Regions from separate parts of the Homo sapiens genome. Here region 2 is linked to region 1. The links come from fine-mapping of genetic effects on plasma protein levels. A gene starts in region 1. The other region holds a variant in brackets. All regions are shown on one strand. Distances are between the middles of the regions.

The links. A credible set is the group of variants that fine-mapping cannot tell apart. PIP is the posterior inclusion probability: the model's chance that the variant is causal. Protein levels are from antibody-based Olink assays in UK Biobank. Linkage for the fine-mapping came from a reference panel and not from the study's own genotypes, which makes the PIPs less certain.
Region 2: its variant is the best candidate, but not a certain one, in a credible set for the plasma level of the HDDC2 protein (UK Biobank, PIP 0.50).

Annotation. Positions count from the first base shown.
Region 1 is chr6:125,291,383-125,306,297 of GRCh38, forward strand. It overlaps HDDC2 (HD domain containing 2), which reads right to left and starts at 10,585. Exons shown (of 6, transcript NM_016063.3): 1 at 10,467-10,585; 2 at 9,156-9,277; 3 at 7,332-7,434; 4 at 1,459-1,527. The coding sequence starts at 10,550. RefSeq lists a silencer at 10,275-10,614 and a cis regulatory region at 12,108-12,288.
Region 2 is chr6:125,264,366-125,279,513 of GRCh38, forward strand. It overlaps TPD52L1 (TPD52 like 1), which reads left to right. Exons shown (of 7, transcript NM_003287.4): 7 at 1-42. It overlaps LOC124901395 (a long non-coding RNA gene), which reads left to right and starts at 3,750. Exons shown (of 2, transcript XR_007059736.1): 1 at 3,750-3,900; 2 at 6,151-11,555. It overlaps HDDC2 (HD domain containing 2), which reads right to left. Exons shown (of 6, transcript NM_016063.3): 5 at 12,737-12,875; 6 at 10,985-11,878. The coding sequence ends at 11,781. The variant C/T (reference allele first, on the strand shown) is at 4,791.

The DNA.
Region 1 (14,915 bases):
GCATTTCCTTATTTTAGAAAAATAATATGGTACATATGGTGTACACTAAGTCATGCCTCTAGTGAGGTCTGGGACAGCACTCAGTTGCCGGATGAAGATTTCTGCATCAAAGCATACCCATTTCCACACCAAGAGAGATGGATGAGGACTCTAAATAGCCTGATGTTGTTTCAGGTAAGATTTGCTGCCTAATGAGTTCAGGTCAGGTCAAATTTCCTAAAAACTGGTCCTCTGAGGTTTCTGAATTTCATAACTGGGGATAAGGGTGTGGGAACCTGTATGATTCTCATTTTCTAGAGGAGAAAATGTGGTTAAATAGAGTCAAGTAACTCACACATGGGTGTGTAAATAGGAGTTGGATCCAAACTCAGGTCTCTCTGGCTGCAAGGCTCTGGTCTTTGCACCACACCTGAATGCCTTAAAATGGCTATTTCATCCCACCATCAACCCAAACCACAGAAAATGACAGTGCCATACAGAATCTGAGCGTTACATGGCATTTCTAGAAGGAGTTGTGCAGGGTTTCAACCCTGGGCACTTCCCCTCACACTCCTAAGACAAGGGACAACCTGACCCAGCACATGAGGGAGTAAGACATGAAACTCTGCCAGCTTTGGCAGAGGCAAAGCAGGAAGGGGCCTGAGTAAGGAAGTAGAAAGGGAAGGTAGAAGATCAAGCTTTAAGACAGGAGGATGAATATGGACTTTGAAGAAGATGTGAAAAGTGAGAGTGGGAGGAAAAGGCTATCTATGAATAAGGGGAGGCTTAGGGCTCAAGCAAGGAAGGGCCATTGTGGACTGGCTGGAAGAGAGAAACTGTAATTGGAAAGGGGAATTTTTTTTTCCCTTCACAAATGAAAGACAACAGTAGAAGAGGGAAGCAATGGGAAACAACAGCTGAACCTGCCCTTTCCTTCCAGCCTAACCTCCCTTCACTGTCAGCAGCACTGGGAAGGGAGCAGCACTGGGAAGGGAGTGAGCACTGGTAGAGCCCTGTTCCATGCCAGGCATCTCTGTGGCACTTCACCTTGACCTCATCCAACCCTAGCAACCCTCCAGGGTCTTACAGATGAGCAACAGACTCAGTGAGGGAAACGTGCCGAGGTCACAGAACCTCAAAGTGGAGAGGTGGGATTCAATCCCAGCTCTGAACTATCCCCAAGTCCATGTTCTTTTCAAGGACCAAAAATGGGTGGGTGTGGGCAAAGCAGCAAGAACTCAAGGGCTGAGTCAAGTGCCAGGAGTTGGGGTGGCGAGGGAAATGGGGAACTTGGAGAGATACAAAATTTCTATCCATCAGGAGAAATTTCTGCAGCAGCTGGGAAGTGAGAAACAGACACAAACCAGACAGTAATAAGTTAGGGACCGCTTGTTAAGATCATCTAAGTCAAGTACAACATCAGGGAGCCATATAAATTCAGATACAAATTAAAAACAGTAACGTACCATATATACTTACTTCCCAAAGTTCATAGAGCTCCTTTCTGAGGTCCTCTGGTAGGAGCTGGGTTATCTGCTTCATAGCTTCCTGAAATATTAAACCATTATCTTTAATTATATTGACATTTATCACAGTTAACAACCACTCTGCAACAGACAAATAGGTTCGGATTCTTACAAACAACTCTCACAGGGGCAGCAGAGTAAATTGGCCTATACTGGACAATATTTATAGCTTGTGAGGAAGGCAGGCAGTTGTATACCTTAAATAAATAAGTGTAATCATTCATATGGGCTTCGCTTAGCACCTCTTTTGTGGTCTACAACACAACAGACATAGAAAAGGACAATGAGGAGGTCATGAGACAATTACAGAAATATCAGAGGTGTTCAAGGATTTTACATCTGTGGATAAATCACAACATACCCACATACATTTCAATCATAAGCATATGAGAGTTCAAAACAAACCTGAGTGGGGAGAATGGGAAAGGAATACTGAATTACAAAGCTCAAAGAGATTTTTTGTATATTCATTTTCTATTGTTAACATGTTTTTATTGCAAGATGTAAAGTACAATACAAATGAGCGATTATTGCCATTAACATAAACGAAGTTACATGATAGAATTTTGTAGGCTCACAGACTCACAGGCTGAAAAGGGATATTAAACGGCAATTAGCTAAACCATCCATGTAGTATCTGAACCCTTCAATAGCATCATGGAACAGTTCTATCCTCTTTCCAAAAATGTGTGCATTGGTAGGGAGCCTAGTACCTCAAGAGGCTGCCTTAGACAGTACTGGCAGAAATTATTTTCTTATATCAAGCTGAAAATTTTCCCTGTAGTTCTTCTACCACACCTAACCCATCCCTCCTGCTTTCCTCTCTAACCCACAAACACAACGTCAAACAGGTGGACAGTGACCCCGCTGGGCTGGACTATCTGTGGCCACAGTGACTGGTCTAAGAGATAATCTTATAATTCAAACCAGGCATTCAGGGGCCATCTGCATTTGTCAAGCAGAGGCTAGGAGAGAAGCCATATTCCCCACCACAAGGAGAAGCGTTGAGAGTTAGCCAAAACCTAATGAAAAGCAGAGACAAAATAAGAGTAGAGGGTGTCCTGTACTTCTAGGCTTTCTGTACTTTCTGGTCTCAAAGATCCCAGGAGCTACCCTTATCCTCCAGTCTTCTCCTTTATTTATGAGTTACTCCAGTATCCTTCCTTTATTTCTGAATTACTCCAGTACTCTCAAAAAGCTTCAAATTCCTTCACCACCTTCATCCCATACCTTTTAATCAGCCTCAGTTCTTCTAACCACAGAGGTTAGGCTCTTTGAACGGAATATGGCTATAAAAACCATTTTTGGCAATATAAAGGTCTTACATAAAATAAAATAGTGAGTTGCAGGAAAGCAGTGAAAATAAAATTGGACATTTGTGTGTATATTTATTTATTACTGGGAGAAAAAAAATGTTACAGAATACAACCACTTCCAGAGCAAACCACATTTGCCAATGTCAACAATCCACTCTTATAAATAACATCACCATCTTGAATGGCTTGTTCAGTTACAGAGTGGTAGCATCACACTACCCTTAGTAGGAAGGAATTTAGCTTATGTTGTACATGCATTCTCCCTTGTTTCTTTTTCATAAATTTCAGCAAGAATACTTGAGAAAATACTTTATATTTTCACAAATTAACTGTGTCTTTATAGATTCCTTTTCTCTACACTATTGCAGAAACACAAGTTTGCCAATTACTTCCAGTTGAAAAGAATGAACTAAATCATATGTACATACAGGTATATGAACATCTCAACTGTAGAATGCAAACATGAAAGTCCTGCTCTGACAGGAGACTATTTTATTCTCTTTAAAATGACACACCTAGAACTGAATACAGTGATATATGTATGATCTGACCAAGGTGGAAGAAAATGGAATCATCACCTTCCTCATGCTAGATACTATATTCCTTTAAGTGCAGTGTAAGACTGAATTGGCTTTTTGGTGATCACATCCAATTACTAAGTTATTAATAGGCTTCTTTTTGTTCAAAATCACCATATTCTTTAAAAAACAAAACAGCAAATACGTTGTTGCTCTCTTCCTGAAACTGAACTATGATTTTCTGAATCTAGGCTGATTGATATTTGTTAATCACACAATCAGAATAGCATTTTTGAAACCTTGTAGAGAGTTAATATTCTTTGTTTGGCAGCACATGCCAGAATCATGCCTTTTTAATTGAACCCTCTGAAATCAACATGGCTGAGGTCCAGGGTACACAGCTGAGTATGCCAGCCTTTCCCTTCCTGGCAAGCGATGAGCCCTGACACTTCCACTTCTATACTGAGTTTCACCTTGTTGTTCAGTCATAGATTTAGAGTGACAGCTTCCCTAGCCTCTTCCTCTGTTAGCAAAATATGTCAAAAATCTGCCTAAAGTGCCGAGCTGAATGAAGCTTTCAGCAAATATTTTGTGTCAGTTTTGTGACAAGTAACTGGAAGGTATTATTCATCATTCAGACACTGATGAGGCTGAAGAGTGTAGTAGTCAACTGAAGACCAGATCCAGACTGGGTTTCAAACCCGGCTCGCCATTTATTAATACTAGCTGTGGAACCCTGAGCAAGTCATTTGACCTCTTTGTCCTTCAGGTTTCTCATCTACACAGTGGGGTTAAATATTGGTACCTACCTAAAGGGATCATAGGGATTAAACAGTTAATACACATATAAAGTGCTTATTATTGGCACATAATAAGCACTTTATAAATCTGCCACATAATAAGCACTCTATAAATGTTTGCTGTGTTTTTCATTTTCTCCTTCTTGTCATACTTACTCTATGATAAAGTTCCATTCTCTTTGTAATCTCCAAGTTCTTTAGCAACTTTAACCCTCCCAGACACAGGCATACCACGACTCTGCCCTCTGTTTCAATAAGGTTTCCCCTTTGCAAAGGAATATGACCTGCCACCATTATATTCCAGCTTCAAGTTCCACCTCACTAGATCACAGTGATCCTTATCAGACATCATTTATCAACCTGCATTATCAACCTGCATAATATCAAGTGTATGTTAATATGTTTAGGAATGAGGCCAGACTACAAGTATTGCTTTTGGCTCCTTTCTAAATTTGTTTCTTCTATGCCCTCATTCTCCCTTTCATCTTAATACCTACTTTTCTCCAAAACAATCAGCCTTCCAGGTTTATCAAGTATAGTTGGTCCTCCATATCTGTGGGTTTTGCATTAACGGATTCAACCAACCATAGATAAAAAAAAAAATTAAAAAAAAAGATACAAATAAAAAACAATACAGTGTTATCAACTATTTACATAGCATTTGCATTATATTAGGTATCATAAGTAATACAGAGATGACAAAGTATATGGAAGGGTATGTGCAGGTGATATACAAATACGACACCATTTTATCTTCAGCATCTGCAGATTTGGTTATCTATGGGGGTCCTGGAACCAATACCCCATAGATACTGAGGGACCACTGTATTTTTTCTCCCTCCTACTTTAGTTTAGAGGCTCACTGATGTAGCCAGCAAGGGCAAATGAGGTTTCCTGGTTCTCATTAGGCAAATTCCACTCAGAGCCAAGAAACCCTCATTTAATTATCTTAATGCATGGTTCAGACATCCAAATCTTGTTCATAAACACCATCTGCATAAAGAATTGTTCACCTCCCTGATTTTCTTCTCTCTTCCCAAATCCTGACCAGCAGCAGGAAGAGGCAATAGAACATCAGTGCTCTCCAAGCCTTTGGTTTCTTGTCCAAGAACTTGTGGTTCTTTAAGATGTTTCCCCATTGCCTTCTGCTTATGACATTTATTCCCCTGTGAATCAGCAGGAGTGGGCAGCAGTCAGGAGGTTTAATGAGGCTGGAAAGGTTTTTCATCAAAGCCAGGATATAGCATCCTAGAAGGCAGCAGTATCCTCTCTGATTGCTCAGGTCCCCTCTGTGCCTGTCCATGGGGTGTCACCAGCCAGGACTCAGCTCTTGTAGGGACAGTCGTAGGTCCTCCTCACTTCCAGTTGTTGGAGATGGTTCACACTGACTGGTTCTTCTCCAGAAGGTTTTGACTTGCTCCTCTGCGGAGTGAATCTCAAATTCACTGTGTGCTTCCAGAGGGAAGTCTGTCTTTTTCCTCTAGGCCCCATTTTTCCTTGCCTTCTCTTCACCTTAAGGTCTTCAATGACTCACTGGTACTTTAGAATATGATTTCTCGTCCACAATGTCCAGATTTACCCTTGAATAAAACTATCCTACAATGAGCTGTGTAATTGAGGAATTTTTTTCCCTTCCTTTCCCTCTGTGTTATACTTCATTACTCACCATCCTCTGGTTCAGCTGCTAATTCCTTTCTGCAACTAAGAATCTCGAACTAATTGGTTTCTTTTTATATTAATTCTGCCAGTCAACAGAACAGTTCTTTATTCATGGCAGTGCAGATTCATATAGAGAAACATTTCCTTAGACTCCTCCCCTTTTCCTGTCTTGGTCAGCCTGTATCTTGGACCTAAACTTTGGCAGGAAGAACACATTCCTTATACTATTCCCCTTGTGCCTACACTTTTGGGTAGGTTGGAACTCTTAAACTGGGACTCTCGTTCCTTGTGGCTCTTCTTACCTTTGAAGGGCAAAAATCCTGCTGGCTACTGAGCCCGTTAGTCTACAGGTGTACAGATCAAAATGGAGTTTCTTATGTCTTCCTTTTCTACAAAGACACAGTAACAGTCTGATGTCTCTTTCTTTTCCCCCACAAGCTCCAGTCTCCCCAGCTCTGAGAATAGACATTTAAACACACTTGCCCTGTTAAACCATCTCAATAAAGACTCCTACTACTCAGCAATTTAGGACCAATCTCTTAGGCCTCTAATAAAAGTAGCTAGCAATAACTCTTGAATTGAAAACCAACCACTCAGCATTCAAAAAAGGCTTCCTTCATTTTCCAGCTTCTGCTTCAAACATATCTTCCTCGTTTGCCCTGGGCTTTGGGTTTAGAGTCCAAACTGATGTTAATTTAATACATTATTGATGTTATTCATTTCTTTCTAATACAAATACTTGACTTTTCTTTACCTTCAACCCCTAAGTTAAAGGAGTAACTTAAAATTTACTAAATAATAATTACAATAATGATTCGATTTGTGATTTATAGAACTTCTCTCCAAAAAGCTTATTTAGCATGGAGAATTCCTACAAATTCATTTAAATTCCAGCTATTTTCATTATTCTAATGAAAGTTAGTGTGGAGGGAGAGGGGGGTTAAAAAAACTACCTATTGGCTTACTATCAGGGTGACAGGATCTGTACTCCAAACCTCAGCATCACACAATATTCCCATGTAACAAATCTACACATGTACCCTGTAACTAAAATAAAAGGTGAAATTAACAAAAATAAAATAAAATAAAAATTACCTAGCCTCGGGTATTTCTTTATAAAAGCTACAAAAGAACAGACTAACACAACAAGCAAAATCCAATCTGCTGCTTATTCCAGGAAATCCCTGCTTCTGGAAGATAAGGCTGTAAACCCCCTAAAACTGGGTCAACACTAACAGTTTATTCTTCAAAACTCATTACGACCTTCCTTCACATGTTTACCAATCTAAATCTATTATATCCTAAACTGTGCAATCCCAGCTAGTTGCCTAACTTGTCAGATCCATCTTAATATTCTCCAGCCCAGGCCCTGAATCTCTAAAAATATCTTCCCCTGACCTTCCCCTTCCTAAGACACTACTAAGACTATCAAGGCGGTATTCTCCCTAACTGTAACAGGTCTCATAAACTTAGCTTTGCTTCAGCAAGAGGTTTTTCTGGTGGTTTTTTGCACAGTCAATAGTCAACACTGACCTCTTCTCGCCTATGTTTTTCTTCTTTGGGGATGTTATCTGCTGGTGCTATGTCCCCAACGATGCATTCTGCCATATCATGAACCAGGGCTAGGCGTACACATCTGATCAGGCAAGAAATGTCGAATAATTACACAGAATTATATTTACTACAAGTTCCTTCTCTATACTCTTCCAAAGTTATATAATATATATATTTTTTCTCCACCCTCACAGAGTATTTTAATGTAGTATTTTCTAAAGTAGTTATATTCTGCCAGCCTACAACAGTTCTGATCAAAACTGTTAGTTCATATTCAATAAAATACATGTGAGTATAGGGGAAATTGTTAGCATTAATTTTTTTTCTTAAATGGTTTATCTCTGAAATCTCACTTTAAAAGGCTAATAGGCCAGGTGCGGTGGCTCACGCCTGTCATACCAGCACTTTGGGAGGCCGAGGTGGCGGATCACCTGAGGTCAGGAGTTCGAGACCAGCCTAGCAACATGGTGAAACCCCATCTCTACTAAAAATACAAAAATTAGCTGGGTGTGGTGGCACACACCTGTAATCCCAGCTACTCAGGAGGCTCAGGCAGGAGAATCATTTGAATCTGGGAGGTGGAGGTTGTAGTTGGCTGACACTGCACCACTGCACTCCAGCCTGGGCGACAGAGTGAGACTGTCTCAACAAAAAAAAACGAGATTACATTTGACAACTTTCATGTTCCTGACACATGTGAATCATTCAATAAGTGGTTATGATTATTAGCGGTTAAGGAATAGTGGTTGTGATAATTCATCATCAAAACAGGAAGTCAAGTAATGAGATAAATGCCCCATAGGGCCAGTATGTTTTAGGCTCCCCACACTACCAAGGCAGTACAAGGCCCAACAGTGTCCTCTGAGATTTCCCTGCCTCTAGTCTCTTTCTGGTCCAGTTCAAATCCCAGACTACTCCAAACTGCATCTCTATTGGACTTCATTTTCACCTTGTACCATTTGCCAAAAACCTCCTCAGTTCCACTTCATCTGCTGAGTAACAGAGGACTCCTCAGGCTTCCCAAATGAACTCTTTGCTGCAGTCAAGTTGATTAATTTCTCATTTGCAAAATACTCCTTTACTTTCCTACACTCAGGGCTTTGGTTTATCTGCCCTTCTCTCTGCATGCAGTGACTTCTCCTACCTCTCTGGCTACGTTAACCCTTTTGAGCTCAACTCAGATTGCACCTCCTCCATTAAGATCAACCAAGAACAGGTGATCTCCCCTGCTCTTACAATACTTAACATTTTCGACCATAACTTACATTTCACTTCTTACAGAAGCTATTTTGGGCCTGCGTAATTCACTTGGGATTTATTTACTCTCTTACATGCTAGTAAACTTTTGTTCTGTGCTCAAAAAGCATTTTAACACTTGTCGATTAAATGAAGGGGGAGAAGATACCTCTTTCTCAGCTATGTCTTGCACACACAACTCCAAAAGGAAGCCTCACGAATGGATACTACTATCCATAAAAGGCACTAGGAAAGAGCACACAGTGTACTAATACAATGCTAGAATTTTAGACATAACACACTCACCTTCAAGGCCCCAATATCACACTTAAGTTTCCCCTGATACCCTAGGCAGGCTCTATCACTTGCCAACAGAAACCCCAGATTGCAGTTTACAACAACTGAGGCAACATAACCCACATCCTAAATTTGTATGGTTTGCTTCAAATAATTTTTCTTGACCTATAAACTAACCTACAAGGATTTGACATGGGTCTCAGTAGTAAAAACGGGTGCACACCCATAGACCAGAATCTCTCACGAGCATCAAAGTCCAGCTCAGCTTACCGGTCTTTGTTAAGACGGTCATCTTTGATCACCATAGCCATAACTGCCATCCGGTACATGTGATCTGAAACGCTCTCCGGCCTCTGGACATTTCTGTATACCCAGCCAGTTCGTGGGACTCTCTGATAAATATGAAGAAGAAAAAGAAGTTTTAAAGAACAAATATTAACTATCTGCTATGCTCTTCAAGAGATGTCCAGGATATAACACACAGAAGCCGGGTCATAATTTCAGAACCTATTACAAAATGTTTTGCTAAACTAGCTAAAATGATAGACATCTGGAATCAAATGAACTAGAGAGCTCAGAGAATGAAAGGGGTAGAAGACAGAGAGAGATAAGTCACAAAGTCCATTCGTCAAATTATTCTGTTACTGATGTATAATTATGGAACATATGCAAGTCCTTTAAACAAAAACAAAACTGCATTTTTCCGAACAAGAGTTGCGGCTTTTTGCCTTCAAATAATCCTACACAAGCAGAAAACACTGTATTGAAGGGTCTGAACGTGAACGAGTGATAGGCTTCCAAATTCTGAGGCACAAGGGATAAGGGCACTTCTAATTGCTTGATGCTACCAGCCGTGACTCTTCCTTTTATTCACATCATAACTTCATCTTGTGAAACTGCATTTCTTCCTCAGAATTCTACATCTCTAAGGAATGTTATAAATAGTAGTCAGAGTGGCATGAAACGGATAATTTACTTTGAACTTGGGAGAGAGACGGGGAAGACGCACATGATGAAACTCGTGTGTATTACATTAAATCCCGTTTGGGGGGTGGCCGGGAGAAAAGTCTTGTTTCTGGAAGTAACTGTGAGACAGACATAAAAAGCTCCACTTAAAATCTGAGGAGCCGACAGATTCTGTTCTTCCCACCCGTGCTCAGAAGCAGCCGCGCTTTACACACACACACACACACACACGAGTTCTGGGGTCGTGAGCACACACACACACACACACACACACGAGTTCTGGGGTCGTGAGCCCCGGAAAAGCTCAGTGCAGGCAGGGCCAGGCCGGCTGCTCTCCGGGAACTGGCGCGGCTGCAGTGCGGACCTCGCGGCGCCAGGCTCTAGGCTCAGACTCCGGGCCGCCCCAGCTGGCCAGCCTGTCCCGCCGGCTGCTTCCTCCGTCCACCGTCGGCAACGCGCGGCCGCATCCGCAGGACTGGGGCCTTTCCGGAATTCGGCGTGGCGGACGCGGCGCAGGAAGGGCAAAGACCGCCGGCCGAGCGGGGAGGCCGGAAGCTCCGCCGCCCCACAGTCCCGCCCGCTCGGCCGCGGCCTCCCGGCCTGGTGCCCGCTCACCTTGAGCTGCCCTACCAGCCGCAGGAACTGCAGTAGGGACCGAGCCCCGTGGCCCGAGAAGGTCGCAGAGGAGACCGAAGCCATGCGGCCACCGACCCCGGCTGGGCGGAGCAGGCCGCGGCGAAGCTCCTCCCCGTCCTCCTCCTCCTCCCCTTCCCCTTGTCTTTCTTCCCCCTCCTCTTACTCTTCTATCTCTTTCTCCTCCCCCTCTTCTTCTTCCTTCTGCCCCTCTTCCTGCTCCCCCTCTTCCTCCTCCCCTTCCAACTCCTCCTCCTCCTCCCCCACTTCCGCTTTCTCCTCTTCCTCTTCCTCCTGCCCCTCTTCCTCTCTCCCCCTCCTCTTCCTCCTCCTCCTGTTCTTATTCCTCCTCCCCCTCCTCCTCCTGTTCTTATTCCTCCTCCCCCTCCTCCATATTCTCACGGTTTTCTCAGGACCTTCTGTCCAGCCTTCGCCTTCTTGGCCTTGGTGTCCGCTGCTTGGGCATTGCTCCGTCAGTGGCAGACACCTTGCTTGGCACATACTTGACACTCAGTACTCTTTATGAAAAATAAAGCTCTCCTTTCTAAATTTATGAACCTCGTTATTCTTCAGTTGACAGTGTAAAACCATGAAACTGGATGAGGTCACCTGGCAAGAGGGTGTGAATGAAGAAGAAAAGACACCCAAGACCTGAACCCCAACATTTAGGCTTTGTGAGATCAAGAGGGAACAGCCAGTGAGGTAGGAAGAGGATTAGTAGGTAGGATAGTTGTGTCCTGGAAGCCATGTACAAAAATATTTCAAGAAGGAAGGAATATGGTCAACCAAGTCAATGTGAGGACCAAGGTTTGACTTCCAGACTTAGTAAATTCAATATTATTGGTTACCCTGACAAAAGCAGTTTTCAGTGTAGTGGGCCAAGCAGAACCTAGTGAGATAATTCCGAAGAGAATAGGAGCAAGTATTACAGCACATTGGAGATGGGGTTGGGGTGCTGTTAACTAGTGGAGAGATTGTTTCAAAACAGGAGATATTATGTATGTTTACTGATGAAGGGGATCTAGTAGAAAGGGAAACATTGATTATGTAAGAGACAAAGAAGAGAAATATTTGAATGTCGGCCTTGAGTAAGGAAAAATATTCCCATCTGGTGTACAAGATAAAAGATGGGCTTTAGATAGGAATATGGAGAATTCATTCAAATATTGGAGGAGGACAGAGTATAGGGTGACTAATCAGTCGCACATGTGGTCATGGGAGGTTGTAGAAGTTCTCTTCTGATTGCTTCTATTTTCTCACCAAATTAGGAAGCAAAGTATAGGCTGGGATGTTATAATAACAAACAACCTCCTTATTTCCTGTATCTCAGCAGTTTAACACATCAAAGGTTTATTTCTCTCTCATGCTAAGTGTCTATTGTAGATCAGCTAGAGGATGCTGCTTGCTCTAACCTTACTCAGGGAGCTAGGAGGCTTTCTTTGCTCTCTTTTGCCAAAATTGGAAAAAAGAAAAGTGGCACTCTGGCTCTTAAAGCCTGTCTCTGGAAGTGATATATGACCTTTTGTCTACGTATCATTGGTGAAATAAGTAACACTGCCACGTCTAACTTCAAAGGGGGCCTGTGGAGTGCAATCTTGCTAGGCCTCTGGGAAGAAAGGAGGCTAGAATGTTTGTGAATAGAGGAGGAGGCATTTGAGGTTTAAGGAGTGATATAGTTTGGCTCTGTGACCCCACCCAAATATCATGTCAAACTGTAATCCTCAAAGTTGGAGGAGGGGCCTGGTGGGAGGTGATTGGATCATGGTGGCAGACTTCCCCCTTGCAGTTCTTGTGATAGTGAGTGAGTTCTCATGGGATCTGGTTAATGGTGTGTAGCACTTCCCCCCTTTGCTCTCTTTCTCTTCTGCTCTGCCAGGTGAAGACGATGCCTGCTTCCCCTTCACCTTCTACCATGATTGTGAGTTTCTGCAGCCATGCTTCCTGTACAGCCAATGAAATACCTTTTCTTTATAAATTACCTAGTCTTAAGTAGTTCTTTATAGCAATGCAAGAATGGACTAATACAAGGAGAAAGAAGGCATGAAATAATTTTTTTGAAGACTGGTTCAGCAACAAGATTAAATATGACTAAGAACCAAATAAATGCCAAGGACATTGGGGCTTGTATTAAACGTGGTTAGGATAATGACCTGGAAGCCATTTTTATGATGGTAAGTGGTGCTAAATAAAGGAAATATCAAGCCAGGTGTGGTTTGTGCCTTTATCCCAGCTACTTGGGAGGCTTAGATGGGAGGATCACTTGAGCCCAGAAGTTTGAAGCTGCAGTGAGTTATGATCACTCCAGCTTGGGAAACAGAACCTGTCTCTAAAAAATTAAAAATTAAAAAATGGAGGGATCAAGGTTTAAAAAGAAGGATCAAGAATCAGAGGCAAAGTCAGACAGTCCACTGGAGGAACACGAAAGCAAATGACCAAAAAGATCCAGGAGAATAAGGAAGATGAGGATGTTGGATTTGCTGAAGGATGTAGTAAGGGGCTTTCAAGAGATAGGTGCCATGAAGCAATGGGGCTGCAAGCTAGCTGGTGAATGTGCAGTGTAACCCTTACGGTTCCTTCTGAGCAGCCTTGTCTTCTTTTGCCAACAATGCATTGATTTCCTTTGAGCTCCTCCTGATTCATGCAGGCTTGATTTAGTTTCCATGGGTATTTCTGTCTGTATTTGCAACTTTCTTTGCAAAATACACGTGAGTTATCTTAACTTTGTGTAGTGAGCTGTAAAGAATTTCTCCAGTTTCCTAAGTGATCAGAAGTTGGAAGACGTCAAGTTGCTGAAAAATTATGAATTGAGTATAAATAGTTTTTGAGGGACACTATTTAAAGATGATATGGATTTTTGGAGGGGACATTACTATCTAAAAGTAAATTGTTACTGTGAAAACTCAAAATATAGTGCCGACTTCTTGCTTTTGTAAACTGAAGATGTTCATCAGGGTTCGTAACAAGGTTTATTCCTACTATATCATTAAAGACCAAGATGTTTGACTCTAGAAGGTGGAATAGTAGCCTCTTAAGGATATCTAATTTTTCCAGAGCTTGCAAATATTTCTATATTACATGGCAAAGGAGAATGGTAGCAAATGGAATTAACTTTGCTAATCAGCTGAACTTTAAATAGGGAGATTATCCTGGATTATCCCAATGAGTGAGATGTAATCTCAAGGGTTCTTAAAGATGGAAAAGGGAAGGAGAAGAGTGAATGCCAAAGGGATGTGATGGGAGAAAGACTCAACTGGCCATTGCTGGCTTTGAAGATAGAAGGGGCCATGAGCCAAGGAATGCAGGCAGACTCTAAAAGCTGAAAAAGACAGGAAAATTAGATTCTCCCCTAGAGCTTCCAGGAGGAAATGCAGTGTGGCCCGCCCCTCGATTTTAGCTTAATGCAGCCCATTTTGACCTCCAGAACTGTAAGATAATAAGTTTGTGCTAAGTTTATGGTAATTTGTTACAATAGTAATAGGAAACTAATACAGTGGATAATCATGTTGGATGTCCTGAATCCCTTTTTACCAAATACCCTTCTTCCCCTTTTCTGCTGAAGAAGGGAAATTGGAAAGCCTGTTTCTATTTCACAAAACCAAAGACATATTTCAATGATGTGTTGGTCAAGCATCTTCCTCTAGCATTAGGTTAGAGGAAATAGGAATCAATTTATTTCCACAGAAGGTGGTTCCATTTTAAAGCAGTGAGCAAGGAAGGAGATTTGGCACAATGTACTTGAGTCAATTGGAAGGAAAGATGTTTGAAATTAGAAGGCTCTCGTTAGAGGGACTCTTTACTTGGATCCAATATACATTTCAGGGGAACCTGTGGATACCCTGAAATTGTCTACAACTTGTGTTGCTTATGAAATTTTTTTTGTTTAGAAGATTCTTAAAGTGGTCTGTGGCCAGAACAGGGGCAAAATCTGCCACTATTGAGAAATCTGCTATGTATCTGTGATGTAGTACACAAAACTCTGGACTCAGAGCGATAATAATCAAAGGTACAGCTAATTGAGCCTCTGTTAGTGTGAAGCATTGTTACATCTCTCATCTTGTTTTATTCTCTCATTATCACTCCAAGGTATTAATGATTCCACATTCCAGATGGGGAAACTGAGGTGCACCAAAGCTAAAGAATTGGCCTCAGTTTTTAGAGCCAGGAAACGGTGCAAGCACTGAAACTCTAGCCTGTCTCCTTCCAAATCTTTCTTTTTGTGGCACTTGGTGCTCCCCAGTGGCTATTAGTACCCAATTCTTAATGTTGTGGAAATTCAATGAGATTACATGCCTGGAATGGATTTTGTAAACTTATTTATATGAAGAATTGGGCAAGAAAATAGGTAGTGATAGATTGATCTGAGAAATTTTGTCAGAAAATATTCATAAGTCCATTCTGGGAGATTACTAAAGAGATTTGTTCCTTTAAGGT
Region 2 (15,148 bases), 27 kb before region 1:
TGACATTTTGAAGTAAAGCACATCTGAAAAATTCTACTCAAATTAATGGAGCATGACAATCTGTGCAATCTGTACACCTAACTGAAAATCAAGGTGGTTCAGGACAACATCATCTCTGAGGCCTGGAATCTTAGCAGAGAGAATGGGGCTGTAAACTTGACCAGAGTGGACAAATGTAGACAAAGAAAGCTCACTAGCAGGGATGCTGGCATTCTCCCTTATTTGTGCTTCCAGCCTGTTGGTTGAAGTAGAGGCAGGAAACCAACCCTGCCCAGCTGGTTCTCAGGCCGTGCTGGCTCGCCCACCACAGCACACAAGTACTCAGTCTCTGTGCCCAATCTATAGCTGCCTGTTGAGTGTGAAGTGGCTAACTTGTGAAAACTCCCTGCCACCTTCTTTTTTTACCATATTCAGCACACCGCATTGTATTAGATAAAGTTATGGTACTTTAAACAAATATCTCCGTTCACCAACCAATTTCTGCACACCATAGTCTCAGCCTTATAATCTGAAAACACAATATTAGAATTGGATAGAAAAACAATCAAGAAAACTTGTGGTAATATCTTAAAGCTTCCAACACATTTTAGCTATTTATTTTATTCCATTCATCAAAATTCTGATTTCATTAGTTTGGTAAGAATCTTATGCACATCATCTCTATTCATCTAAAAGCTTTTCATTATTCACTCTGACCTAGAAGTGATATTCATAATGGCCATGGCATAAGTAGCATTTTTTATTTTTGTCATAAAATGTGTGTGAATAACTCAGATTAGATAAATCAAACACTTGTTGGTAGGTGGGCAGTCTTACCTAGTTTAGGCAGTGAGCCTACTCTTAGCTTCAGGAGCATCACTAAGAGCTGCCTGGTCCTCCCTCACCATGGGTGTGCAAGATCATCCTGATGGGACTGATTGCTGAGCTTCTCAATTACATCTAGTGAGGCTCAGTTCACAAGCAGTAGTTTAAAGTGTTTCACAAGTCCTAAAAAGTAATTGCACACAATGGACATAACCTTTTACTAACAAACCAAAATGACTTCAGGTCAACACCATGTGTGTATGAAAGGATACCTCCACAGAAAATGTACAGTTGACCCTTGAACAACAGGAGTTTGAACTGTGAGGGTCCACTTATGTGCAGATTTTCTTCTGCCTCTGGCACCCCTTGAAACAGTGATACCAACCTCTCCCCTTCTGCAGCCTACTCAACATGAAGACAATGAGGATAAAGACCTTTATCATCATCTGCTTCCACTTAATGAATAGTACATATATTATCTCTGTTGTTTTTCTTTTAACATTTTGTTTCCAGAGCTTACTTTATTGTAAGAATACCACATGTAATGCATATAACATAAAAATATGTGTTAATTGGCCATTTATGTTATCAACAAGGCTTATGGTCAACAGTAGCTGTTGGTAGTTAGGTTTAGGGGGTGTCCAAAGTTAGAATCAGATTTTTGTTTTATTTATTTATTTATTTTTTTGAGACTGAGTCTCACCCTGTTGCCCAGGTTGGAGTGCAGTGGTGCAATCTTGGCTCACTGCAACCTCTGCCTCCTGGGTTCAAGCAATTCTCTGCCTCAGCCTCCCGAGTAGCTGGGATTACAGGCACCTACCACCACGCCTGGCTAATTTTTGTATTTTTAGTAGAGACAGGATTTTACCATCTTGGCCAGGCTGGTCTTGAACTCCTGACCTTGTGATCCACCTGCCCTGGCCTCCCAAAGTGTTGGGATTACAGGCGTGAGCCACAACTCCCAACCTAGAATCGGATTTTTGACTGTGCAGGCCTAATCCCCGAGTGGCTCAGGCGTCAATTCTTTCAATTATCAAAAATTCTGATGCAATTGTGATTACAAAACAAACTAGCTTTTAAAAAAAGTAAGCCATTCTGAAATTTAACGATTTACCACATTTTAAACACAGTTGCTATGATGAACATATTTGTAAATTTACAGTGCTACTTTATCTCACAACTCACATCACATAAAGATTACAACTATTGGCTGGGCATGGTGGCTCATGCCTGTAATCCCAGAACTTTGGGAGGCCAAGGTGGGTGGATCAACTGAGGTCAGGAGTTCGAGACCAGCCTGGCCAACACGGTGAAACCCCGTCTTTACTAAAAATGCAAAAATTAGCTGTGCTTGATGGCACATCCCTGTAATCCCAGCTACTTGGGAGGCTGAGGTGGGAGAATCTCTCGAACCAGGGAGGCAGAGGCTGCAGTGAGCCGAGATCTTGCCACTGCCTTCCAGCCTGGGTGACAGAGAGATGAGACCCTGTCTCAAAAAAAGATTACAACTATTGGCAGGTCATTTTAGCAATGCAATCTGCATATCTTACTCTAAATTACACATTTTGTTAGAAATCTGTTCTTGAACCATAGCAAACAGAACAAAGTGCATGCTTTAGGATGTGTCTTCATGATATGCCATGCCGTTCACAGTGGCCAGTGTAGAGGGAACCCAGGGATCTACACGGCTCTTCTGTCACTGTTCATTGTTCCAAAATTACGTGTAAGCTTTAAAGTTGTTCAACATCAACCCCATCGTCCTCCTCTCACTTAGTATTCAATTTGAGTGGAAGTAGTGTGATAAAGGAAGATGGTGGTAAGGTTGAAAAGTGACTTAATATGAAATGTGAAACAACTTCTTCAAACCTAGCATTCAAATGTAATTTCAAACTATAACAATATTTGGCAAAATCTTATGGCTACTTTTGATAACTTCTAAGCATGGTAAAATTCTTTATGCTACATTTCTGCTTGACTTTCAGTTCACACCAGAGGGTATATTCATGTACACACACATTATATATATAATATATATAATACATATCCATCCATTATATATATATATAAATTAAAGCAAACCAAAAATGACAAAATCATGTCTTTCACAGAAATCATCCCATTTCACCTTTGAATGTGAAGACTGACAAATTGCTTAAATGAAAATGCTGAGTACAGAGATGCTTTTTTTTACAAAGCGCTTCATCAGTCATTTCCCCCAGAGCATGTATCACCACCACAAGGCTTTGAGGTGGATCAACATTTTTCAAATACAAGGGCATTGAGAATTATGTAATAGCTGGTAAAATACCAATCCATAAGGGGAAAACAGTGTAGGGAAAATGGCTGTGCTTTAGTCAGGAGTAAGCTGAGGTGGTGTTGCAAAACTGAATGGCCTTAGACATACTAACTGCTGCCCAAGGAGGCACCTGTATCCTTTTAGGAACACGATGTTGTACCTTTATCCCTGACAATTGGCAGAACATAACAGCAGTTCTGCAAGGGGTCTCATGGGAAATTAAGTTGGTTGAGAGCCTTATTGATGGCCCCCTGCAGAGACGGTGGGCATCCCTGGTCTCTGGCCTATGCTGGGCCCTAAAAGTCATAACTAGTATAGCTGGGATCCTAGTAGTGAGCTGTCGCTCTCTGTATTGTTGTGGGTTATGGATCCAGGGCTCTGCCCTATGGGCATGTATCCCTACCTGAAAGACTTCCCTTGGCCTAGGGGGTAGAGTGTAAGGTAAATCGTTGTGCTTTAGTCAGGAGTACGCCAAGGTGGCCTTCTGGTGCACCATGACTCAGAGGGTTTGGAGTGCAGGCACACAACTGTGCACATTATGTAACCCCGCCACATGAGGCACATTGTGACCACTCACATGAGCTTGTGCTTGGCTTGCAGCCACTATTGTCTGTAAAAGGTACAACTACCCAGCTGATGCTGTACATATAGCTCACATCCAGAGAAAGAACAAAGCCATGTCAAAACCGCCTGTGATTCCTTGAGTGTTTTTCCAGCTACCCACCACCTGCCCACCGTCTCCTCTCGGACCTCAGCTTGGGCTAGAATCTGACAATTGGTGCTGTAAGCAGGATCATGAGGTGAGTGAGCCTTTGGTCCCTGCTGATTCCAGGTCGGCCATGTGGCCAGAACATGGGCTGTGGTACCCAGTGGCAGCTGTACTGCTCGGATGGGCTCTGGTGGAAACCCGGGCAGTGGTAGATGGGTCATGCTTCAGTGCACAGACAAGGCACTGAAGCAGCTGGAAGCACAGAGCACCAACAAGGAGAGAGCCTTCGAGGGCTGGGTCTGTTGTCTTAGCTGGAGATCCCCACTCAGTCTGATACCGTGGAGGAAGGACCCCTGTTGTGGGCTTGCTCAGTGGCCTGTCGGAAGGTAAATCATGAACAGCCATTGGGGCCCCAAGGGTGGGCTCAGGGACACCCCTCCCCCAGCTCCAGGTAGCTCTCTTCTTTGTTAACCGTGCAACGGTTTTGTCATTTGAGCTAATGGGGCACAAATGCCCCCCAATATCCCAGGAAGCCCACCCGAGTGGTAACACAACACAATTCATATATTTCCTATACCCCAACTGAGTTGCAGGAATTAGGCAAGTAGTGCCGCCAGTGTCCAGGGGAACCCCTGCCCAACTGCATGCTTCATTTGTGGGATGAGGGAGCAGACAGTATCCCTGTTCTGCCTCTGGGATGGAAAAGCTGGCCTCCATCATGACTCCCCTCCCTCCTTCAGTGGTTGCAAGTAAGCAGGTGGCTAGTGGCAGGGCAAGGTTACCACACCCTGATTGAGTGGCTTTGGGCAGCCATATGGACTGTGTGAAATGACATTGGTGAAATAACTGAAACTGTGAGTAAATGGCAGTCATATGCTGATTTGGTGCAAGTCATCTGGGCGATGGTTATATGGCAGGCTATGTTTGACCTGAATACCCGGGGGCCAGGTGATGAATGTTTACCTCTGCACCCCCGAGCAC[C/T]TTTGGCTTCCTAGCTGCTGTCCTCACCCTGTAGGTAGGGCACCGCATACATGAAGTGACCACTGCTATAGCAGCTCTCGGGGAAGCAGAAGGCCATCGGTGGGACTGAGGGGTCCACACCATAAAGAAGAGGAAGGTGCCCTGCCCACAGGGGGCTCCCGCATGGGCAAAAAGGGGGCCCCAATGAGTGACACACTCACAGATGTGGGTAGATTTGATTTTGTCCAGGGTTGACTGAGAGAAAATCAATAAACTGCCCAATGAAGTATTCTTAACTTTGTGGAGACACTTGTCTCCAGAGAAGCAATTCTGGAAAATACCAAGGGGAAGAAGGACATTGCTGCGTGACCCATTCCCGCCCAGGTGCTCCAACTCAAGGACTACTTGCTGCAGCCAGGCTGAAATGTAGAGCCTTTTCTGTTTGATTAGGGAACTGGCCAATGTGCCCAGCTTGGGGGGACACCAGATGACCAGTGGCCACATGTAGAATTAGCAATTCACTGGTCCCCCACTAACGTACAGCGGGTGTCAGTGCTGGTAGATATTGGCACAGATTGTAGCCTTGTGTATGAGAATCAGATAAGTTTCTGGGCAAGGCTGTTACATTTATGTTTATGGAGGCTGGTTACTGAAAGTGAAACCTGTGTCTCTGTACCTCGGCATTGGCCACTTGGCTCCCTGTTTATATACTGTGTATGTCTCCCCCATACCTGAATACATCCTGGTGGTGGACATTTTACATGGCCTGGCGTTACAAACTACGGCCAGGGAATTCAGACTCCTAGTGCATCTGGTGAAGCTGGTGCTGCAAGGACATAGGCATCACAAGCCTCAGGTCCTGTCACAACCCCAACTGGTTACTTCCACCCATCAATACCATTTGCTGGGTGGGCATATGAAGATAACTGAGACAATTTAAAAGCTGGAGGAGGTGCAGATAGTGTGTGGCATCCACAGCTCCTACAATTCTCCAGTGTGGCCAGTTAGAAAGCTTGATGGAACTAGGCGGATGACGGTAAACTATCAGGAACTGAATAAAGTAACACCCGCTTTGAGTGCAGCTGTACCGTCAATCATGGATTTGATGGACTGCTTGACAATGGAACTGGGACAGTACCACTATGTGGTGGACTTGGTCAATGCATTTTTCTCCATCGACATTGCTCCAAGAGCCAGGAACAGTTTGCCTTCACGTGACAAGGGCAACAATGGACTTTTACAATGTGGCCGCAGCGCTATGTGCATAGCCCCACCATATGTCATGGTCTTGTTGTCATGGATTTAGCCACTTGGCAATGTGCAGAAGGGGTCCACCTATTCCATTATATTGATGATATGTTAACCTCTGATTCTCTTGTAGATTTAGATGTGGCGGTGCCTCTCTTGCAGCAACATTTGGCAGCATGCAGTTGGGCCATCAATGAATCCAAGGTCCAAGGGTCTGGATTATCTGCCAAATTATTGGAAGTTTCCTGTCTAGGTAAGATGATGGCCATACCAGAGGCTATTATTGACAAAATTCAGGCATAGCCCTGGCCCACCACGGTGAAGCAGCTACAAACTTTTGTGGGCTTCCTGGGATACTGGGGGGCATTTCTGCCCCATTTAGCTCAAATGACAAAACTGTTGCACGGTTAACAAAGAAGAGAGCTACCTGGAATTGGGATATGGCTGAGACCGCTTTCCTGGCAGCCAAGTGGGCTATTCAGCAGGCACAAGCCCTATGGGTAGTTGGCCAGGGGCACCTGTTTGAGCTGGATGTGCATGTGAGCACAGATGGTTTCAGTTGGGGCCTGTGGCAGCATACAGAGTGCCTGAGAACACTAGTAGGCTTTTGGTCTTAACTGTGGAAAGGAGCTGAGCTCCAACAGTCCTTGATAGAGAAACAGCTAGCAGCTGTATATGCAGCATTTCAGTCTTGTGAAAGTGTGACAGGATGGGCTACAGTCATCATGTGGATGGCTTACCCAATAGTGGGATGGATGTGTTCATGGATAATGCCCCCCTGGACTGGGATGGCACAGACATCTACTTTGGCAAAGTGGGGCACCTACTTGGAGCAGCAAAGTTTGCTGAGTACAAGACCCTTGGCAGCAGAATTGCAAGAGGTCTTGGGACCTATAGTCCTAATGCAAGAGAAGGCTATAGGGCCTGGGGCACCCCTAGACCCCAAGCCATCACCGTTTAAGGAAGGGTACCCCCCATTCCTGATGGGGCATGGTACACAGATGGGTCTAGCCAAGGATCTAATGCTGCCTGGACCGCTGTTGCAGTCCAACCTAGTACAGACACCATATGGTTTGAAACCAGGTGTGGGCAAAGTAGCCAATGGGCTGAACTTACAGCAGTATAGATGGTGATCACTAAGGAGCAGATATCTATGGTGATTTGTACCGATAGCTGGGCAGCCTACCGAGGCTTAACCTTGTGGTTAACTACTTGGAAAATACAAAATTGGCTAGTCAGCCACTGACCTATGTCATGGAGCCAAGTGATGTGGCAAGACCTCTGGGAAATGGATCATCAGAAAGATGTAATTATTTATCATGTGTCAGGCCATATGCCTTTGGCCACCTTTGGCAATGATGAGGCAGATGTCTTGGCCAAGGTCCAATGGTTAGTCGGCACCAACACAAGATGTGGCCTTCTGGCTACACCAGAAACTGGGACATGCCAGGGGCAAACTGATGTAACAGGGCAATAAGTGTTGGGGTCTGTCCCTGCCCATGCAAGGTATTTGGGAGGCTCGTCAGAAATGCCCAGTATGTGCTTGGTCATACCCTAAATGGAGGCAGCTGCCCACTTTTACACAAGTGACAACAGGGCGAGTGATCTTGACCAGGTGGTAAGTAGACTACATCGGTCCGCTGCCAAAATTGCAAGGGTATACACATGTGCTAACAGCTGTGGACATGGCCACAAGCCTGTTGTACATCTACCCTTGCAGGGTGGCCAACCAACAGCACATCCTCCGGGTCCTGCAACACTTATGTGCCCTGTATGGTTGCCCTCTGGCCATAGAGAGTGATAGAGCACCCATTTCACTGGACAACAGGTACAACAATGTGCACAACAAATGGACATAAAGTGGGGATTCCATGTGCCATACAACCCACAAGCTGTGGGTATGATTGAGCAATATAAAGGGCTCTTGAAGAATGGGTTACACTTGCATGTCACACCCGTCTTTGCAGTGCTGGAGTTCCAAGCTGGACCTGGTGGTTCAAACCTTGAATGAACAGCCATGGAAAGACCGCCCAGCCCTGGTGGAGGCTTTATTACACTGGGCCACCACCCCTATTCAGTTGCAGATACACACTAAGGATGACCTCCTCCGACCAGGTATGGGGACGAACGGTAACCTTTTGTTGCTTGCCCCAATGCCCCTGAAGGGAGGGGAACAGAAAACCTGGCTCTGGCCATGGACCCTCCAGGCTCCCCACTGCTGGTGGTTGGCCGTTGTAGCTCCCTGTGGGGAAGACCTACAGTATGACTTGCATGTCACTCCTTGGGCATTCAATACATGTCACCCTTGGTTGATTGTTCTTAGGGCAACAGCCAGGGAAGAAACGCTCCTCTGGGGGACATAAGTACTGTCTGTGTGGCCTATTATGAGCTTCCCCTTGACTTTGGCATAGATACCGGACCCATAGGAACCATGGGGAGCTGAGAAGGTGTGGTACCATCGCCCAGGGCAGAAGCTCTTGGCAGCTGCATTGTTATCCATGGATGAAAAGTTAGCCTGTATTTTGCCTGAGGGACGTCACTTACCTCTGTTAGTAGCTGTGCCTGCTCTGTCATTTTGGCCATAGGTTAACATGCTCCAACTGCATTGTAAACTGCGCCCACACCTGTGCTGAGGTGATCAATGTTTCCAACTTTCGGGTCTGCACTGCCCTTCCAGCAGCAGCTGCAGATGACTTGCCTTGGCATATACATTCAGTGTCTACAGAGAACTGGACATGGCTGGAGACTTGGGGTCCCGTGGTTGACATCTGGAATGCAACGCAGCAAGCTTTGGACAAAGGACGCTGCAAGATCCATGGTGCTCCCATCATGTGGCTGGCCCATAGCATTTATGATGGCTGGGGCTGGCTAGCGGGGGAACATGTAGTACCCCCAGCCCAGGTGTCGCAGAGCATAGAGCAACACTGGGGTAACACCACTGTGGGATAGGTACCCATCACAGCCTGTGTAAACATAACACATGTCACCATACTGAAGGTATGCTGGAACAAGCAGCCCCCAAGTTTGGGCCCCAAGGGACTTTGTGCCCCCTGGGAGTTTATGGGTCTGTGGGCACACAGGGTGGCCTTACCTACCAGTGAACTGGACGGAATGTTGGAACTGGGGGTGGCCACTGTTCTCTCCACATTGCCCAGACACTGCATAACTGGAAGGCGCTACACTCTCATTTTTTGTGAGTGCGACGAGCTCCCCAGTGGTTCTACCCCTTGACAGTGACTATCCCTGCGGCGGGTGTCACAACTGTAGAAGCACAAGTTACTGCTCTTGCAGAGCACACCACTCGGGCTCTGAATTACACCCAAGTGGCCCTCCTCCTGTTAATGGATGAGGCTGGTCAGATGAGAAAGGTGGTATTGCAAAACTGAATGGCCTTAGACATAGTAACCTGCTGCACAAGGAGGCACCTGTGCCCTTTTAGGAACACAATGTTGTACCTTTATCCCTGACAATTGGCAGAACATAACAGCAGCCCTGCAAGAGGTCTCATGGGAGATTAAGGTGGTGGAGAGCCTTACTGACAACCCCCTGCAGAGATGGTGGGCATCTCTGGGCTGTGGCCTACGCTGGGCCCTTACAGTCCTAAGTAGCATAGCTGGGATCCTGGTAATGAGCTGTTGCTCTCTGTAGTGTTGTGGGTTATGGATTCAGGGCTCCACCCTATGGGCACGTATCCCTACCTGAAAGACTCCTCTCAGCCTAGGGGATGGAGTGTAAGGGAAATGGCTGCATTTTAGTCAGGAGTAGGCTGAGGCAGCCTTCTGGCACAGCATGACTCAGTGGGTTTGGAACGCAGGCACACAACTCTACACATTATGTAACCATGCCACGTGAGGCACATTAGGTGACCATTCACATGAGCCTGTGCTTGGCTGGGATCCATTATTGTCTCTAAAAGGTTTAACTACCCTGCTGATGCTGTACATATGGCTCGCGCCTAGAGAGAGAATAACGCCATGTCAAAACTGCCTACGATTCCTCAAGTTTTTCCAGCTACCTGCCACCAGCCCACCAACTCCCTTTGGACCTCAGTTTGGGCTAGAATCTGACAAACAGTAACAAATAATTCTTTTTTCTTGAGTTCAAACCATGAATAATTATTTACTCTGCATTGTAATTATAGGGTTGTCATTCAGAAGACAAAGTCTAGGCAAATGGCAGGTATCTTCTAAGGACTAACATTTTTAAGTAATAATGCTCATTTATAGACATTGCTGGTAGGCTCAGGAGCTGTTATTTTGTTGATCTTCATTTTGTTATTTTCTTATCATCAAATGTTTTATTTATAACACTATTATATTTTTTTCTTTCTTTCTTTAAAAGATGTATTTCCTCAGGAAGGAAGGTTTAGGACTAACTGAAAACTCCCATTTCGTAGGTAGATGATGAACTGAGATAATGGTTAAGTGACTAGTTATAAAGTCTAACCCAGTAGAAGTTTCCAAAGTCTCTCTGTGAATTGTTTTGTTAGCTATTTATGAAAATTATGGTAGACAAAACATTGAAAATAAAACTGCAGGGCCACAGAACACCTTCTGGTTATAAATACTTGAACTTTATCTGGGGTTATTTTGTGTGTATGTTTTCATGCCAAGGGAAAAACTCCACAATCCTAATAGATGGAGTTGTTTTCCTACTAACCATATATCCAGTAATGGACTTTACCCTCTTTCTTCTTTTTGATACAGAGCAATTACACATACATATGTGTGTTGCTTCTGAAAAGATCATGCACCTTGCTTCCTGCAGATTGGGTATCCATGGATACCGCAAAGAGTTTCCAAAGAAACACTGCCTAGAATTTTCACCATGCCAGCCTCGAAGGCCTTCAAATGGAAAGTGACATTTGAATTAAAGGGACAAGCATCATTGCTCCACACCAAAACACTGGGCAGGTTTGCAGAAATCGTATTCTTTTTTGCACTATTCAATGTAAAGGCAGACAGGGTGGATTATTTATCCTATAAAAGGGAAAAGAGAGGAAGAAATCGGGTTGATATATTCCCTACCTGAGGCTCAATGACCCCAGTTCCTATTTATATTTCTCACCTGATGATACATGCTTTTACAATAAAGGTCTCAAGATTTATAAGTCAGACAGGGAAAAATATACAAAGGAATACAAGTTGCATTTTTATATGCCCCGGTTTATATCTCTAAATGACAAAAAGTATTGGGAAGAGGGGCAGAGCCTATTAGTAGGTTTACAAGCCTATGATTAGAAGTCTGAAGCAGTCTGCAGTGAAATTCAAAATCTGGCTCAAGAGAGTAAATCTGAATAAGGCAGCAATTTCATCTGGGGAGAGAATACATCACTAGTACATTTTCTTTTCTGGATTCTTATCACTAAATCAGCTGAAGAATCTGTTCTTAAAAGCAATCATAATGAAATTTTCTATTATTCAATGAACCTAGCCTTCGGGGATATCGGTAATTAAGTCAGAATAAGATGATTTTAAATCTCCAATAAATATTCTAATATTTTAGGTGTTTAATATTTATTTATTTAGTTCATAAACAGGCACTGCCACCTCCAGTGTTCATCCATGGCACTTTCATGACCGCTTCCTGTTCTGTGGCTTCTTTTAGTGCCCAAGTTGTATCACATTTCTTGCTGAAGTTCAGACAATTGAAAACAAACAGACTCACATCTAGGGAAATCAACAGACCAACAATGGCAAAACACAATACAATGAAATGGAAAAATAATGTTTGTTACAGGAGTGCAGCAATTTAGAGAGTGTCTCAGGAGTGTGGCTCACTGGCAGCTGCAGCTATGTTAGTGCTTCTTTCTGCCTCAAGTTCAGAAACAAGCTGGACTATCTCAGGGTGATTGAATTTTCCTGCAAAGCAAAAGAACAGGGAAAAATACATTCCCATATTGACAAGAGAGTATATTCATTTCCCCAGCTTGATCCCAGGGTTCACTGGGGGCTCTAGTCTACGATCTGACCCACACTTCATTCCAAAGCAGAAAGAGATTCCAGGTCCTGGGAAGGGGCTGAAGGGGACCACTTGGCATTTACGCTCTGTCACCCCAGGTGCAACTGAGAATAAGGATGAGACTCAGGCAAGGAATCATCAATTAGGCAGAGGTAGGGGAAACTTCACCAGGCTCCTCAGTGCCTCTACCAGGAACTATGGGAAAACTCAGGTGTGAGAGCCCAGAAAGCTGAAGACAATCTCTGCCCATTCCAAACCTGCAATTAAGTAAGGAGAATGAAGCACCTATATATGAAAAGACAAGGAGGAAGATCAGAGGGGCTAGGCTGGCTCATGATGTAAACAAGGATGCAGGTGTCTCTCTTGTAAACACCTCTACACTTCAATTGGCTGATCTGTGCTGTCATCCCTGCTCCTCAGACCTCCCCAGATTTCTGCTTTGGTAGCAACCAAGCTCTAAGCTATTGTATGTCCATGACGGCTAGCATGGGGGACTGTTCAACCCAACATCTCTTCTCTCACCGTCTTTTCTTGCCTGTGTCTGTTGTTGCTTACTGTTCATTCCACATTAAACTCTATTCCATTTATTTCCTATCCTCAGCCTCTTACCCGAATGTTTCCTTCCCTTTCTTTTTAGATGCTCCACATGAAAGGGTCAGATGAAGGTACCAACAGTGGGTTTCCCTAATATTAACATTAGTCACTACACTGAGTAAGCCAAACTAAAATGGACTCTTGTTGAAAATGGTGTTGAGTACCTGCTGTGGAATCATAGAAGTCTTGCAGTCTCCCAGGTTTGTGTTCAAGGTCTTCATATTCAGATGCTTGAAGAATCATTTCACATTGGTCTAGCTGCTTCACAAATTTGGCTTCTGCACTAGATTGGGTCTCGTACTCCTAAGTAAAGGGACAATTAAAGCAGCATGATTAGCGCTGCATAATAGGGTATCCTGGGAAAATTCTGACTCTGGTACCCGAAATCAGAGTGACAGCTACAAGTACATTCTGTATCGGCCCCATTTCTCTACTGTTTAGAAATCCATCAGAGACACTTCTGTAATTTCACAGCCTAACACCAGGACTCTATACAAGAAAGATGTGCTCTCCATTCTAAGTATTCTACCAGAAGCCATGGAAATCTTGTATGTTCATCTTAGGTACTTTCAAGATCTTTTCTTCCTGTTTAATACCGTGTCTTCATTTTAAGACCATTGTTCTTTAATCTACCTAAGTAGTTTAGATATTTTTAACATCAAGCTGATATTTCGTCTTATGCCTCTCAAACCTGTATTTCCCTCTCCATTTCATGTCAGGTTTCCTTGTCATTTCTAAGTGTATTTCTAGCTTTATCATTTACTTTTGGTTACCACTTTACCTGGGAATCTCTGTGCTTACTTTCCACATAGGGTAGATTTAATTAAGTCCCTCTGAGTTAAGACTATTGAGGATAGAGCCAAGATCTGAGGATTTTACATGCACCGGTATGTGCATGTGTTGCAGGTGGGAGGTGGTGAATGTGGTGGGGGGAGCAGTTTTTTTACCTTTCCCTTCCCACTGGTCCCTCCCTCTGCAGTGCAGACTTGGAACAAGAAGCTCCAGGAGTTCTGCTTCTTATAGAATGATGCATGCCACCCAACCACAAGTCCCAATTAATACTATATAGATTCATTCTCCTATTAAGAACAAAGTGCTCCCAACTGGTTTCCCTGCCAAGTTCTTGTTTGTAATTCTACCCCAGATGTGTTCAGATAACAAACCTGTCATGGTTTCTTGGCAGGGTGATGTGATATGAATCAATTAAAGGTTTCTTAGTTTTTATTACACGCTTATTCTTATAAAGGCAGCTACTTGGATTTGATAAAGCTGAGAACTGTATGGGGGAATCATTTAAATATGGAACCAAATACACTTTGCTTTATCTCAAAGGCACTTAAAAATAATTTCATTTTATTTGTTTATTCACATTCACAGTTATATATTTATGTTTAATAAATTCAAGTTCATGATTTCACAAAAGGAAATGGAATACTCCAAGCATAGCAGTCTAGAAATTTTTTTTTCTGTTGAAAGTGAGAAAAATATTTAAAGACCATTAGGAAATACAATACATCTTATTACAAGTTCTCATGAACTTACAGATTTCTTTTAAAAGAAATATAAATTATTGAAATTTTCCCTCAAAAATTAATGATATAGGCATTCTTCAATAAAAAGGCAAAGCACACAAAATAATACTACAGACAGAACTCTAGGGGTGAGAAGAATGCATGGCATTTGGAGAAATTATTGCAAGTAGCTTTTAATGTCAGGAAGAGTTAGGTTCAGATTTGCATTTCAGAAAGGTCACTCTAACTACAGGTGGATAATATCTGGATTGGAAGCAGAGAAATCAGATTCTAAGACTTTGTAGCACTAGCAGAGACGTTATAGGAATCTGGTCTAAGACAGTAGCAGTGAAAATGGAAAGAAGTGGTAGGATTTAAGAAATATTAAGGATAAAGAAGTGAACTAAAATATAAAAGTAAATGAGAAGGAAAAGTGAAAATGACTGCCTAGTTTCTGGTTTGAGTAACTAGGTTCATGATAAAATAGTGAGCAAAAGAGAAGAAACAGACAAAACCTGACACAGCAAAGAAACAGCAAAACCCAAACAAAAACTGGGAGACATGACATTCCCATCAAGTCCAAATATGTGCAAGTAGAGACAAACCACCTCCAGCCATAAGCCCTGCATGCCATCAGCATGGGAGTAAGAGAGGATTAATGTCTGATGGACCTGAGAATAGGAGAATCTCAAAAGGGCCAACAGGTATTCTCTAGAAATCTCACATTTTAAGAACAGTAGTTGACACTGGGAGGGATCTTGCCCACTCCAATAGTGGATGAGCACAAGGAGCTTACATCAAAGACAGCCCAGCCCTAGTGAATTTTCCAATCTGACCTGCTGGGGCTGCTTTCCAGGAGAGGGCCCACATGAGGAGAAACTGCTGGGAAGAAAATCAAAATTGAGTGGGATACAGATAACACAGATGAAGAAAAGACCCAGATAAAAATGGGGAAGGGGAACGAAACCAGGAGGACATCTCTAAAAGAAAGCCACCATATTTTTTTAATGCTACATTTAAAAAAAACACAACAACAACAACAACAAAAGCAGAAGCAGCTCTGTG